Regions from separate parts of the Homo sapiens genome. Here all the other regions are reported to be linked to region 1. Evidence: microRNA targets listed by miRTarBase, many of them from high-throughput screens and not tested one by one. Region 1 holds a microRNA gene; each other region holds the end of a gene's coding sequence.

Region 1 (4,068 bases):
GTCTCATTCCTAGAATGATAAATGCTCAAACTAGACTAGTGAAATGAGACATAAGAGTTTTTACAAGGTAGTGTCTGCCTGAGCAAACTCAAATAATTACTCAAGTAAAGAAAGGAGGCTGTCCTGGCCAGCACTTTGGGAGGTAAAAGCCAGAGGATAATCAGGAGTTCAAGACCAGTCTGGGCAATATGGTGAAACCGTCTCTACAAAAATAAAATTAGCCAGGCATGGTTGTATGCACCTGTAGTCCCAGTTACTAGGAAGCTTGAGTCCGGGAGGTCAAGGCTGCAGTGAGCTGTGATCATTTCACTACACTCCAGCATGGGTGACGGAATGAGACCATCTCAAAAACAAAACAAAAAGGAGGGTGATCCTGAGCAGTTAATTGTCTGTACAAAGTCACACAAGTGTTTACAAAAATGGAAGAGCTGGAAATTGCTCGTGTTAGCTTTATTAAAACATCTGTAAATGACCATCCAATCACCAAATTATTGCTAATGAAAAATGAAACTAAGAACAAATCATAATAATTACAAATGAAAAATGCATCTACTACTGCAAGGATGGGGATAAGGGTTAAGGATGACTTAAAAAGCACTAGTTTTGAAGTATGCAGTGTTTTTATTGAAAAGATGTATAACTTTTAACAAAATATGTAACACTATTACCCAGTCAAGACAACCACTTTCATTTTATTGACCTTCCAGTTCTTGTACATATTAAACAGACAAATCACTGTTACATACCATAATGAGCAGCAGCTCAATTACCCATTCCCAAACCATGCAATTCCACCCCAGCCGCCCCAAATTTTAAATCCAGAAGACAAACCTAGAAAAGCAGCAAGATAAATATTTACAAACATTGTAGAAAAACAGCAGTATTTCAAGTTTTGTTAAATTCTTTCCTTCAGACATAATGTAGACATAGAGGAGGAACAGCTGAGAGTCTCTGCATCACAGAAAGAGAAACCTGAGCAAAAACAAAACCATGCTTTCTAAACTTTCCAGTGACACCAAAAGGGAGACACTAGCAACTAAGTGTACTTCAGAAGTCTCAAATTCTCATTAGTTGACTTTCAGTTATCAATGTCAGCACCATGCTGCAGTTTATAATCACTAACGCAAACACTGCTCTCTTTGATATTCTTGCAATGTTTTCATTTGAAAAAACCTACAGAAAGAACTCTGCTTACACCAAAGCAAAGTAGCAAGGAAACAGGTTATCGGTGAATAATAAGGCCCTAAGAAAGGCAGCAGGTCGTATAGTTACCTCCTTGTGGGCAAAATCCCTGCCCTAAAACTATGCAACCTACTACCTCTTCCTAGGAACCCATTTTTTTTTTCTTGCTGGTCTTCTACTTGGCAGATGCACTTCAAATTAACCTGTTAAATTAGGTCATGTTCTTTGAGTTTTGTTTCTAATTCAAACTAATCAGAATTCTTTAACTAATGCTTTTGAAAAGTTATCTGGCCATATGACCTTGGTAAAAAGCCACAAATACATTTGCTTAAAATCCAACCTCAAGTCACAAACGAACAAGAAAGTAATGACATCAGAGGATGTAAGCCAGTAGTCTAATACTCAGCCCACCACGTATTACTGGAGTCGCTGACTTTTAACATTTAATTATCAATTTTTTTTTTGGACAGTCTCGCTCTGTCACCCAGGCTGGAGTACAGTGGTGTGATCTCGGCTCACTGCAACCTCTGCCTCCTGGGTTTAAGTGATTCTCCTGCCTCAGCCCCCAGAGTAGCTGGGATTACAGGCGCCCACCACCACGCCCAGCTACTTTTTTGTATTTTTAGTAGAAACAGGTTTTCACCATTTAGGCAGGCTGGTCTCAAACTCCTGACTCAGGTGATCCGCCCACCTTGGCCTCCCCAAAGTGCTGGGATTACCGGCATGAGCCACCACACCCGGCCTAATTTTTGTATCTTTATTAGAGACTGTGTTTCACCAGGCTGGTCAGGATGGTCTTTAACTCCTGACCTCAGGTGCTCCACCCGCCTCAGCCTCCCGAAGTGCTGGGATTAGAGGTGTGAGCCATGGTGCCCAACCCAGTTACCAACATTTAAATATCAAATTTCATAAAATCTCCAGTCTCTCCTGTTAACTGGAAAAGTAGGTGACAATGTATATAAACCCTGCTTGCTACCTATCAACCAGAGCAAATTAATTTACTATATTTGCCAGTTACAACTAGCCCCTCCTGGGCCTCTGATGGTATTTCAGTTTTTGACCCCTGAATTAAAGCAAACAGAAACAAATTCTGATCATGAATTTTATCATCATTAAAAACAAGCTTTCAGAGATAGTCATTCTCTCCATAAAGGCATTTTTAAAGTTTTATTTCGATTTACTTACTCTGCTTAGCTAATAACAATGTCCTTATGTAATTAATAAAATATATAAATTAATTTTTCTCCAGGGCTTAATTATTAGATAAGGATACGTTTCCAACTGAAGGTGGCAACGTTATGCTGGAAGAACATGTCAGGAAGACCACAAAATTTCATGACTGTACTTGCTACACTTTCAGCAGAAGAGTTATACATATTTTCAATTCAACAAAGATTAAGCCAAAAAGAATTCTTAGAACATTCCCACTCTTCTTTGGCACATCAAAAGGCAACAAATGTCATTTTCTCCCATGTTTTTATGTGCAGTTTAGAACAAAGACCAATTATCTATGCAGCTGTCCACAGTGGATAAAACAAAAAGCATACATTTGGTCCAGAGTTAAGTCACCTGGGTTGGGCCCATCCAAGGAAGTTTGATGTTTCTACTCTCATGAAAAGTACCAATGGCACTGCACAGTGATTATCTTAGATATTAAGGATAAACACAAATTTCTCCTTAAATTTCCATTTATTGGAAATGATTGGAGGGAGGGAACTTCTCCCTCACCTCCACACTGCCTCTTTTCCAACTCTTCTTCCAACACAAAATAGTTTAAACAGCAAGCACTTAGAGAGCTTTTAGCCTTGCTTGTTGATTACAAGGCCCAAGTTAGTGTATGGTTTGCCCATCGGAGGAAAGCTAAAACATGGGCCTTCATGGGTATTAAAATTGAAGAAACCTTTTCCAGCATTTTTTCTATTTTCTTTAAAGTAACAACCTATGGACTTCCCCATCTGACATTTTCGAGTGATCCCACTGTGTGAATGAAGGACTACTTCAGGGTTTGAGGGCAAAGCTGAAATCTTAGCAACTTACCAGTGAGCAAAGGTAGAACCCAGAGCCCATCTCTCCTTTTCCAGGCTGCTGAGTAAAGTCTGGCTCAATCAACCTATCAATGAAGCAGTGCTTACAACATTCTCCAAGACCACCCAAAACCCAAACTGGAAATGAATCATGACTAATCTGACTCATTTTGGCTCACACAGTGCCCTTCCAATTTGTATTTACCTTTACCACCCAGGACCTGACCTTGGACATGTGTACCAGGATGTAAGGCAATAAACCTATTCACAATTCCAAAAGGGCCTGGTCCTCTATGAAGATTTCCTGAAGGCTACTTACTTTCTCTACTCATTAAAATTTTTGCTTAACTTCAAATTTCTGAAATATACCATATGTGAAAAATTTAAATGTTAATCTGTGCCTACTGTACTACTTGAACAGAGAAAATTAACTGATAAACTGTAAATACAAAATGTCAAAATTAATTCTTCTGAGTTTTAATATCATCTAAATAAAAAGAAAATAATGCAGCAAGTCTACTCCTCAGGGAAGGCAATAGATTGTATAGTTATCTCCTGAACAGGGTAAAATCACTACCCCACAACTATACAATCTACTACCTCACTCTGATAGAGCAATGTTTTCTTCTGGAATGGAAAGTACAATCTCTTTCGAAAGAAAATTTCAACATAAAATTATCAGCATAAATCAAAATAAAAAAATACATTTATTCTGACACAGAGAAATAAGACAAGAAGCAAAAGGTTTCCCCACCCCCATCCAGTGTACTTGCTACAGACTTTATCTCTAAATTAATTTATTTCCAGGCCATAAACAAATGCTGCACTACATCTCTTTAAGACAAGTTAATCTTAAATATTG
Region 2 (4,068 bases), not on the chromosome of region 1:
TCCAAAGCCCCACATTTTGGGAGTCTGTGACCACTCCCATCTGCCACTAAAGCTACGAGTTGGTGTTGGCATGAATCTGCTTTGTTTATTCCCAGCAGGCTCTGGCTCGTGTCACATAAGGCACCAACATCCTTTTCAAGGTAGTAACCATCTAGAATCAACTCAATTGTAACCTGAATTCATAAGCTTAAGTCACCAAAAGACATCACTGGGTCATAATTATATAGGTTCCCCTAAAAAAATAAAAAAAAAATCAATTTCTGCTATGTAGAAAAAGAAACAAAAGGTTTAGGTGCCTTTGCCTTGTGCAATGGATATTTCATATGTTTATTAATTGGTTTCAGTTAATATGTAATATGAAGGCATGATAAATGTGTCAAACTGTTCTCTTGTTTCAGATACAATTCTTGGCATTTCAATATAGGTTATTATCTCATATGTCAGACTTGAGTCCAGAGAATACTAGAAGGACATTTAATTTCCTTTCCTCCTCCTTCCTTTCACTACTCAATTCAAAGAAAAGTTATGAGTACACAGCTAGGAACCATTTTTACGTAGGCATCCATCTGAGCCCATCTTGTTTTTTTTTTCTAAAACAACAAAAAGACTAAGGACAATTACATAATGCATTCCCAAGCCTTTTATGGATATCAGGGCCTGGGGGGACTATCTGGCCTATTTGGGTTCTTTCATTCACCAAAATTCTATTATACATGCCAAGGGTTAAAGGGAACACCATCAGTCAAGAGACGGCTGGGCCCTAGAATGGAATCTATTAGCATAAAATGGAACAGTGGGACCCAAAGAGCTATCAGCAAAATTCCCTTTGTAACAGACGTAAAAATCATGAATTTGAGGGGAAAAATAAACTAGTTTTGGTGGGATGCAGTGGCTAACAGGAATTACTTATTAGAAGGTAATGAAGTTGCTAAATTTTCCTTGTTTTTGATCCCTGTGTTCTGTTGGTCTCTTGAAGCAATCTGAGTGGGAAAGGAAAGTGAAAGAAATGTTTTATGCCAGCTGCCTCTTGTATTCCCATTAATGGGAGTCTCTACATTAATGCTCTACATAATTTGGTCAGACTGATGAGAGGCAATAGATTTCCAATGCTGATGAGATCCAGAGCCCTGGAGCCCATTTATGGCTTGACATTCACCCAGCAAGACGCTGACGTGGCAGCAAACACGGCTCCAATGTCCAGCTTACCTCATAGTTATCCCTTCAATCCTTCTTGATGAGATTGGTCTGAGAGATGAGACTGTACTGAAATCACAAGAGCTATAACTGCCAGAGAAAAATTAAATGGGGTCTTCAAGTAGTGACTGAGCCAGCAAACTAAGTGGCCAAGAGGGAGACAAGAGCAGCTCCTAAAGAAGGTTGAAGTCAAGCAATCTCCGGAACACAGAGGATCTGAAGCATCTGGGCAGAGCCACAGGCAGGCAGGGCAAGGACACACAGCACACCAGAGCAGCACCGTCCTTCACTGTGTGAGAGCAACTCTCAGGCTGCAGAACCAATTGCCATCTCCACTGCCTACAGCTCAGGTCTCCAACTACCAGATAGGGAGTAAAAAACAGTTTGATTTTATTCACCTCAAGTCTAAACACGGTGGAAAAAAAACTGGTCTAGAGATGGAAACTATATTTCATGGGGGTTTATTAAACAGAGAAAGAGGAGAATCTTTCACAATTTCACAGTGCTTTCTCATTGAAATAAAGACATGATCAGGAAAAGTCACCCTTATAGGCAAGCTATCACCTCCCTAAGTAGGGGAGGCACCAAAATCTCCAGAGAATCCTGAGACCACTTGCACGAGTTGAATTATTTTTTAAAATAAACTTATGCTTAAATATGCTAGGTCTCAATTTCTATAAATAAGGTAAAAAATAGTATATTTCAGAAGTTTTAATAGTTCTTTGTAGAGAGAGAACATTTTACCATGTACATAATTCACAAGGGTATAAAGGTTTCCCAATGTAAAGTTCCTTTTACCCTTCAACTGTAACCCATAGCATCTGCCCAAATACTGCTCATTTTTCACTTTCTACTATATGTCTCTTTCCTGCCAACTGAGGTAGTTGTCACTTAGGACAGTTTAAGGCTCTGGAAAACACTGGTGGAAATAATCAACTGCCCACCTGGAGGGCAGTCTCAGAGCTGACCCTTTGGAAGTCTGCAATGGAGCTAGGCCTTTCAAAATTACCACGCTAAATGGCTGGTCTAAAGGAGTCATTACGGCTTTTTAAAAAATCATCTGCCTTTTTCCATCATCTTGGTGAGCCAGTAAGTCTGGTGCTGTGCGCTTGCCATGACCATCTATCTTCCTGGCTAAGGTAATTACAGACTTTTCCAGGGTATAAGGGTGAAGACCACAAAGAAAAAGAACCAAGTAAATGACAGACACTTGAGAATTTGCTTCCTCACAGATGACATTGCTGGTTTATAAGGGGTACTTTGCAATGGCAAAAGAATCTGAAACTAATGCTACTGCAATAACAGGCAGCATACATCTCAGGTCAGAAACGCAATCATAAATAAGTGTAAGTTCATGGAAACTTGACAGCTGAATGAGCACCCAGAGGCATGAAGATAACCTGGAGCCTATTTCCTGGCAATGCAAATTGTGGCTGCTGCATAACTACAAATTGTGTATCAAGAAACTACATAGTTTCAAGGCTTAAAAATTACCCAGATTTGGGGGAGTATGGGTGGTGAGAAAAGGCTGAAAGGAATGGACAGAGCATGTAGACAAAGGAAGGGAAAGGAAAAGGAGACAGTTTCCTGATTTCATAGCAACTCAAAGATAACATGACCCAATGACAGGAAAATGGAGAACGTATAAAAAGCATCCAAATCCCCTAAACAAGATGACTTCTCCTAGCTAGCAGGAATAATGCTACTCTGAACATACATAGTTCACAGGTAAGGGAACTGACCCTTCCTGAAAGGGCAAAGGCAGGGTAAGGAAGAATGGGAAGAGAAGAATACAAATGTTTTTTAAGATGGAATTGAAAGTTGAATATAATAAAAAGCCCAGTACATCTCACCTGCAGAAGAGCCTACAGGCATGTTCCTAAAGGCAAATAGGACTTTCTATCATATGTATGAGAACTAAATCAAAGCTTAAAACAACAGCTCCTGGGGCTTTAATGGATAATCCATATTAATAAATATGTAGGGGCCTAGGGGGTGTGTCACTCTGGAGCACTTGCTGGTTCTGGAACATGAGTTTGTTATGTTTTTTAAAAGACATTCATTTAAAAAACAAAACAATAAAAATCTATTTTCCTCCCAAAACAGTTAAATCAATAATTATTCTAAAGTCACTGAAATAAAAGCTGGAGTGAAGGAGGCTCAGATTTGTGGATTTCTCTCTGGAAGTTGCAGCCTATAGTCTAAAAGCATTCCTGCACTTAACAACAGTTCTTACTTTGGAGAGCCAGCCAGTGACAGAAATGCCATGATTGAATCAACTTTCAAGAAGGAGCTAGAATGCCATGCTAGCTGTGGCCATCCAATTTCTCTGGAAACATAAAAGTGGGCTGTTAGCTTAACCAATGGGAAGTGAACTACCCAGCATTCACTACTTTATCCACTCTCCTTCCTCAGGGATCCCATAGAGACCTCCCATTTCCAAAGGGAGGCCTTTTTAGGCCTCTTATTTCAGTAGGAGAATTTCTACCCTATCTATCTCACTCTGTTTCAAAGGGTTGAAAGCAATTGCACAACACATGCAACATGGACCAAGGCACCAAGCCAGTCCACGTAAAGATAACTGACCACTACCTAGGTTAGAAAGTTGTTCTGTGTGATAGCAGGACACCGAGAATATGAGTCCTCCTCCTCAGAGGATGCTTCCTCATAGATTTCATCCTGGGCAATAATGCTCCCTAATCCATACTCCTGCTCATGGACAGAAACTTCATTTGGCGTGAGGTGGGAAGAGCCTTCCACAAAGTCAGCAAATCTGGAAAAGAGAAGATAATACTCGTTAGAAATATCCTTCTGTCCTTTCTGGTCTTCTTTCAAAATAAGAACAAATTAAAGCCCTCGATATGCTCGCAACTC
Region 3 (4,068 bases), not on the chromosome of region 1:
GTGTGTGAACAAGTGGGTTAGTGTGTGAATGAGTGGGTTAGTGTGTGAGTGGATTAGTGTGTGAATGAGTGGGTGGGTTTGTGAATGAGTGGGTTAGTGTGTGAACGAGTGGGCAAGTTAGTGTGTGAATGAGTGGGCGAGTTAGCGTGTGAATGGGCGAGTTAAGTGTGTGAATGAGTGGGTGACTGCTCTAGCCGAGTTCTTGCTCCTTGGGAAGCACCGGCCAAGGCTAGGAAGCAGCCTGGTTTTTGGGGTCCCAGGGAAGGGGACACCTAGGGGTTTCTGGCTGGGCCCTGGTCCCAGATGTGTAGGCATCAGTGGGTCTCCAAACCTCCCTGCTGGAATTTGTGAGCATCTGGCCCTCAGGACAGTAGGCCCACCCCAGCCGGCCGCTCCCGTGCTCTGAGTCCCGGGTGTGGATGCCTGGGTGCAGCCAGCACTCACCCCTCGGGGGTCCGAGGACGACGCTGCTCTCACGGTCACTCTCCTGTGACCCGAGAGCCAGAGCAGGACCCGCCACCCTCCTGTGCCGTGTCCCTTCCTGTCCACCATGTGTCAGGCCCACTGGACACGGTGCCCGGCAGCTTCACACACACAATTCGCCCTTCGTCGTGCACGAGGCAGTGTTCCAGCATGTTCAGTCACATAAGCTTCACCACAGCCATTTCGGAACATTTTCACCCAAAAAGAAATCCATACCCTGTAAGCAGCCTCCCCCCATCCCCCATCTCCCCCCATTCCCCTTGACCCACCCCCAGCACCCGCCAGTGCACCCCCTGCCTCTGTGCCTGGCCCACTCTGGCATTTCGTGTTAAGTGCAGTCCCACAGCGTGAGACCCTTTGTGTCTAGCTTCCTCCCGAGCGTGAGGCTTCCAAGCTTGGCTCCTGGTTCTAGCTGAGAGGCCTGCAGCAGGCACGGCCCACATGGACTCAGCATGTTCTCGGGCTGCATCCATTTTGGCTGCTGTGAACTTGCGTGCACCCGTTCCTGAGGCTGTGCCACACACCAGGAGTGGACCTGCCGGGGAAGGGGCGGCTCTGTCTCTCACACTTTCAGGAACCACAGGCCCTTCCCGTGCAGCTACAACCCTGCAAGAGGGGTCCGATTCCGCACGTCCTCCCCGCGATTCTCTGGTTTTGGCTGTGACCATCACAGGTGTGAGTTGGCATCTCACGAGTTAGAACACGCTGTCCCCACTCATGGCGGACTCTCTGGTGCCTCCATCCTTATATAAATTAAATTATAAATCGAATGGCCGGGCATGGTGGCTCATACCTGTAATCCCAGCACTTTAGGAGGCTGAGGCAGGCAGATCACTTGAGGTCAGTTCGAGACCAGCCTGGCCAACATGGTGAAACCCCATCTCTACTAAAATACAAAAATTAGCTGGGCGTGGTGGTACACGCCTGTGATCCCAGCTATTCGGGAGGCTGAGGCAGGAAAATAGCTTGAACCTGGGAGGCGGAGGTTGCAGTGAGCTGAGGTGACGCCACTGCATTCCAGCCTAGGCAACAGAGACTGTCTCAGAAATACAGAGATTGGGTCACTTCAACACACAGCACTAGGAAGTTTGGGGTAAGGTCATTTCCAAGCCGATGACATGATTTGGAAGCCCTCGTCCAATTCATATGGTCACTCTTCAGCCACCTGAGTTGGCTGTGGCTGGTCAGCCCTGACGCTCCTGCTAGAAAAGGGGCGGCCAGTACATTTTCTCCAGCTGTCTTTCATGCTGAATGAGACTCAAGAGATTCTTCAACGTACTCAGATTTCATAGGATTTTATTTTTCTACTAACACAGACAGACAGGGAAACCTACAAAAGGAAACGGAGTCAATTGTAAATGGCTGTAGTTACTGGTTACACGGAGTTGACAACACAAAGGATGCCTGGTGCTTGCGTGCAGAGGCTGCAGCCCAGGGCGGGGGCAGAGCTGAGCCCTCAGGAGGTGGTTTCGTGTGCAGAACTGAGCGGCCCTCAGAAGCAGGGCTGTTTTCCAGCCACCAACCAACGTTCAGAGCCAGCACCATGTGGCCGCTGTGCCTCTAGCCTGCTCTCCTCCAGGTGCAGGGGACACAGGACCTGCCGGCCCCATCCAGACATGGAGGAGCGTTTTGCTGCTTAACTCATGCTTAGCCAAGGCAGGCAGAGGCTGTGGGAACTGCTGAGCCCCGCTGTGATGTCTGGGACACGCTCTGGGCAGCAGCCGTCACTCTACAGCAATGCCAGCCCTAGTCTGGCTCCTCAGAAACATCTGGGGGCACAAGTGCAGCCTCTGCCCCGATTTGAACTTTGTTGATGGGGCTGATTCCCTTGGGAGACCATGCAAGCCAGACGTAGCCCAAGGCCTGGCCATCTGGGGCCTCTAGTATATAGAAGCAACCTCTTTATGGACAACCTTGTTACCACGTAACTCCCTGGGGTGTTTAAATAAATAAATATGCCACATAGAAAGGGAGGCCCAAGTCGGTGCCACTGCCCGCAGCCTGCAAATGTGACCACAACCTACAAAGCAGAAACTCACAGCCAGCCGAAGTGCAAAGTGTTGGGCCCTTGAAAGCTATCTCTTCAGTGCCACCGCCGCCTCCATGCAAGGCACAGGCCATGGCAGGGGACGCCCGGGACTCAGCCAGACAGACCTGACACCAGGCGCCACTGCTGCCTGAGGACCTCCCACGTCGGGTCCGTGTCCTCCTTCCCTGGAGCACCGGGGTGGGGATGGCACGTGTGAGCCAGCTCAGAGGCTGAACTGTGTGCCGTGCTCCTGGGGTGGGGTGGGGTGGGGAGGGCAGTCCTGGCTGTCGTGGGCTGTCGGGGGAACTCACTGTTCACTCTGCGCGCGTGTGCCCCTGGGTTTCAGTGCATTTGCCTGCGTGAGGCACTGATCGCACCTGTGGCTGTGGGCTGGGCCCTGTCAGTGCTTATGAAAAGAAGTGGCTGGTTTTCTAAAGGTGGATGGAGACTCGGACAGCTGCAAACACAGCCCGGCATGGCAGAGCCACAGCTGGGGGCCCCTTCCCGGAGCGTAGGCCCTGATGAACTGAACGTGTTCACCACACACCCGACAGATGATCCACCACGTTCTGGAAAAGCCGAGTTCCCTTTCCAGATGGCCCTGGCCCACGCCTCAGCTCATGAAATGTGGACCTGCCGAGCCCAGAGGCTCCCACACGAGGGTGACACGGGCATGGACAGAGTCCTCCAGCTTCAGTGCCTTGAGGTACAGAAACACAAAGACAGTCAAGGAACAGAGTGACTCGGAGGTGACCGGGGCCCTGAGCGGAGCCATGGCCAGGGCTGACGTTTCACCTTCATCATCAGGGACAGCTTCAGCTCCGGGTGCTCTTCCAAGAATGTTCTGGATGGGGTAGAAATGCAACCTAACCACTGGGTAAATCCAGCCAAGGAAAAGAACTTCCAGAAACCAAGGCAAGGGCTCACTGGCTTCTTGTGACCTGCGAGAAGATCTGGCCACGTCCAGGTCACTCCGGTAGCAGCGTCTGCCCTCAGATGCAAGGAAATCGTCCAGCCACGCCCTGATTTGCTGAGCCTGTTAAGGCTGAACAGGAGAGCCCTAGGTGACGGGCCTAGAAACTTCCGTAGGAAGCCCCATGGGCAGCTTGGGCGGCATCACTGGGGGACAGGTGTGTCTGCCGTCTGTTTCCCTGGGCCAAGCCCAGGCCCAGGCTGCCCACGCCGTCCTCCGTGCCTGTCCCAGAGTGCCGTGATGCTGTTGGGCATTAGGAGTAGATGGTGATCACCTCCCGGCCGCCACCCCTGACCAGGAGGACTCTGTTCAGCCCCTCGGTCAGGACTTCAAGAAACTCCATGTCTGTGGTCAACAGAGTTAAGGCCACAGCTGATCTTACCTGAGCGTGTGTAGCTGAAATCGTGATAGGAGTGAGGTTTATCCTCTCCTGGTTAGCTAAGATTTGGTTTGAGAAACCCAGAGCCAAGGTGAAAAGAGAGGTGGGGATTAGAGAGACCCCCCAGGCGGGGAGGAGCAGGGCAGGGGAGAGAGGGGCCAGTGCTCGGGAAAGAGAGGGAGCACCGTGGCCACAGGGAGGACG

What was found. Region 1 holds the annotated microRNA hsa-let-7d-5p (AGAGGUAGUAGGUUGCAUAGUU, at 1,301-1,322, opposite strand). A microRNA usually pairs through its seed, bases 2 to 8, with sites in the 3' UTR of a target mRNA and lowers its output. Matches are read on the target gene's strand: a 7mer-m8 pairs with bases 2 to 8, a 7mer-A1 pairs with bases 2 to 7 and ends in A, and an 8mer does both.
Region 2: miRTarBase lists NEMP1 as a target of hsa-let-7d-5p. Seed matches in the 3' UTR shown: 8mer at 2,071-2,078.
Region 3: miRTarBase lists SLC12A7 as a target of hsa-let-7d-5p. Seed matches in the 3' UTR shown: 7mer-A1 at 3,215-3,221.

Annotation. Positions count from the first base shown.
Region 1 is chr9:94,176,095-94,180,162 of GRCh38, reverse strand. It overlaps MIRLET7D (microRNA let-7d), which reads right to left and starts at 1,329; the gene lies at 1,243-1,329. MIRLET7A1HG (miRlet-7a-1/let-7f-1/let-7d cluster host gene) reads right to left here. Exons shown (of 5, transcript NR_170278.1): 3 at 242-343. MIRLET7F1 (microRNA let-7f-1) reads right to left here and starts at 3,816; the gene lies at 3,730-3,816. LINC02603 (long intergenic non-protein coding RNA 2603) reads left to right here. Exons shown (of 3, transcript NR_160773.1): 3 at 2,432-3,594. RefSeq lists an enhancer at 869-918.
Region 2 is chr12:57,056,093-57,060,160 of GRCh38, forward strand. It overlaps NEMP1 (nuclear envelope integral membrane protein 1), which reads right to left. Exons shown (of 9, transcript NM_001130963.2): 9 at 1-3,967. The coding sequence ends at 3,787. Among named protein-coding and RNA genes, the nearest start is that of MYO1A, 8.0 kb to the left of the region's middle.
Region 3 is chr5:1,048,622-1,052,689 of GRCh38, forward strand. SLC12A7 (solute carrier family 12 member 7) reads right to left here. Exons shown (of 24, transcript NM_006598.3): 24 at 1,763-3,830. The coding sequence ends at 3,739. Among named protein-coding and RNA genes, the nearest start is that of MIR4635, 12 kb to the right of the region's middle.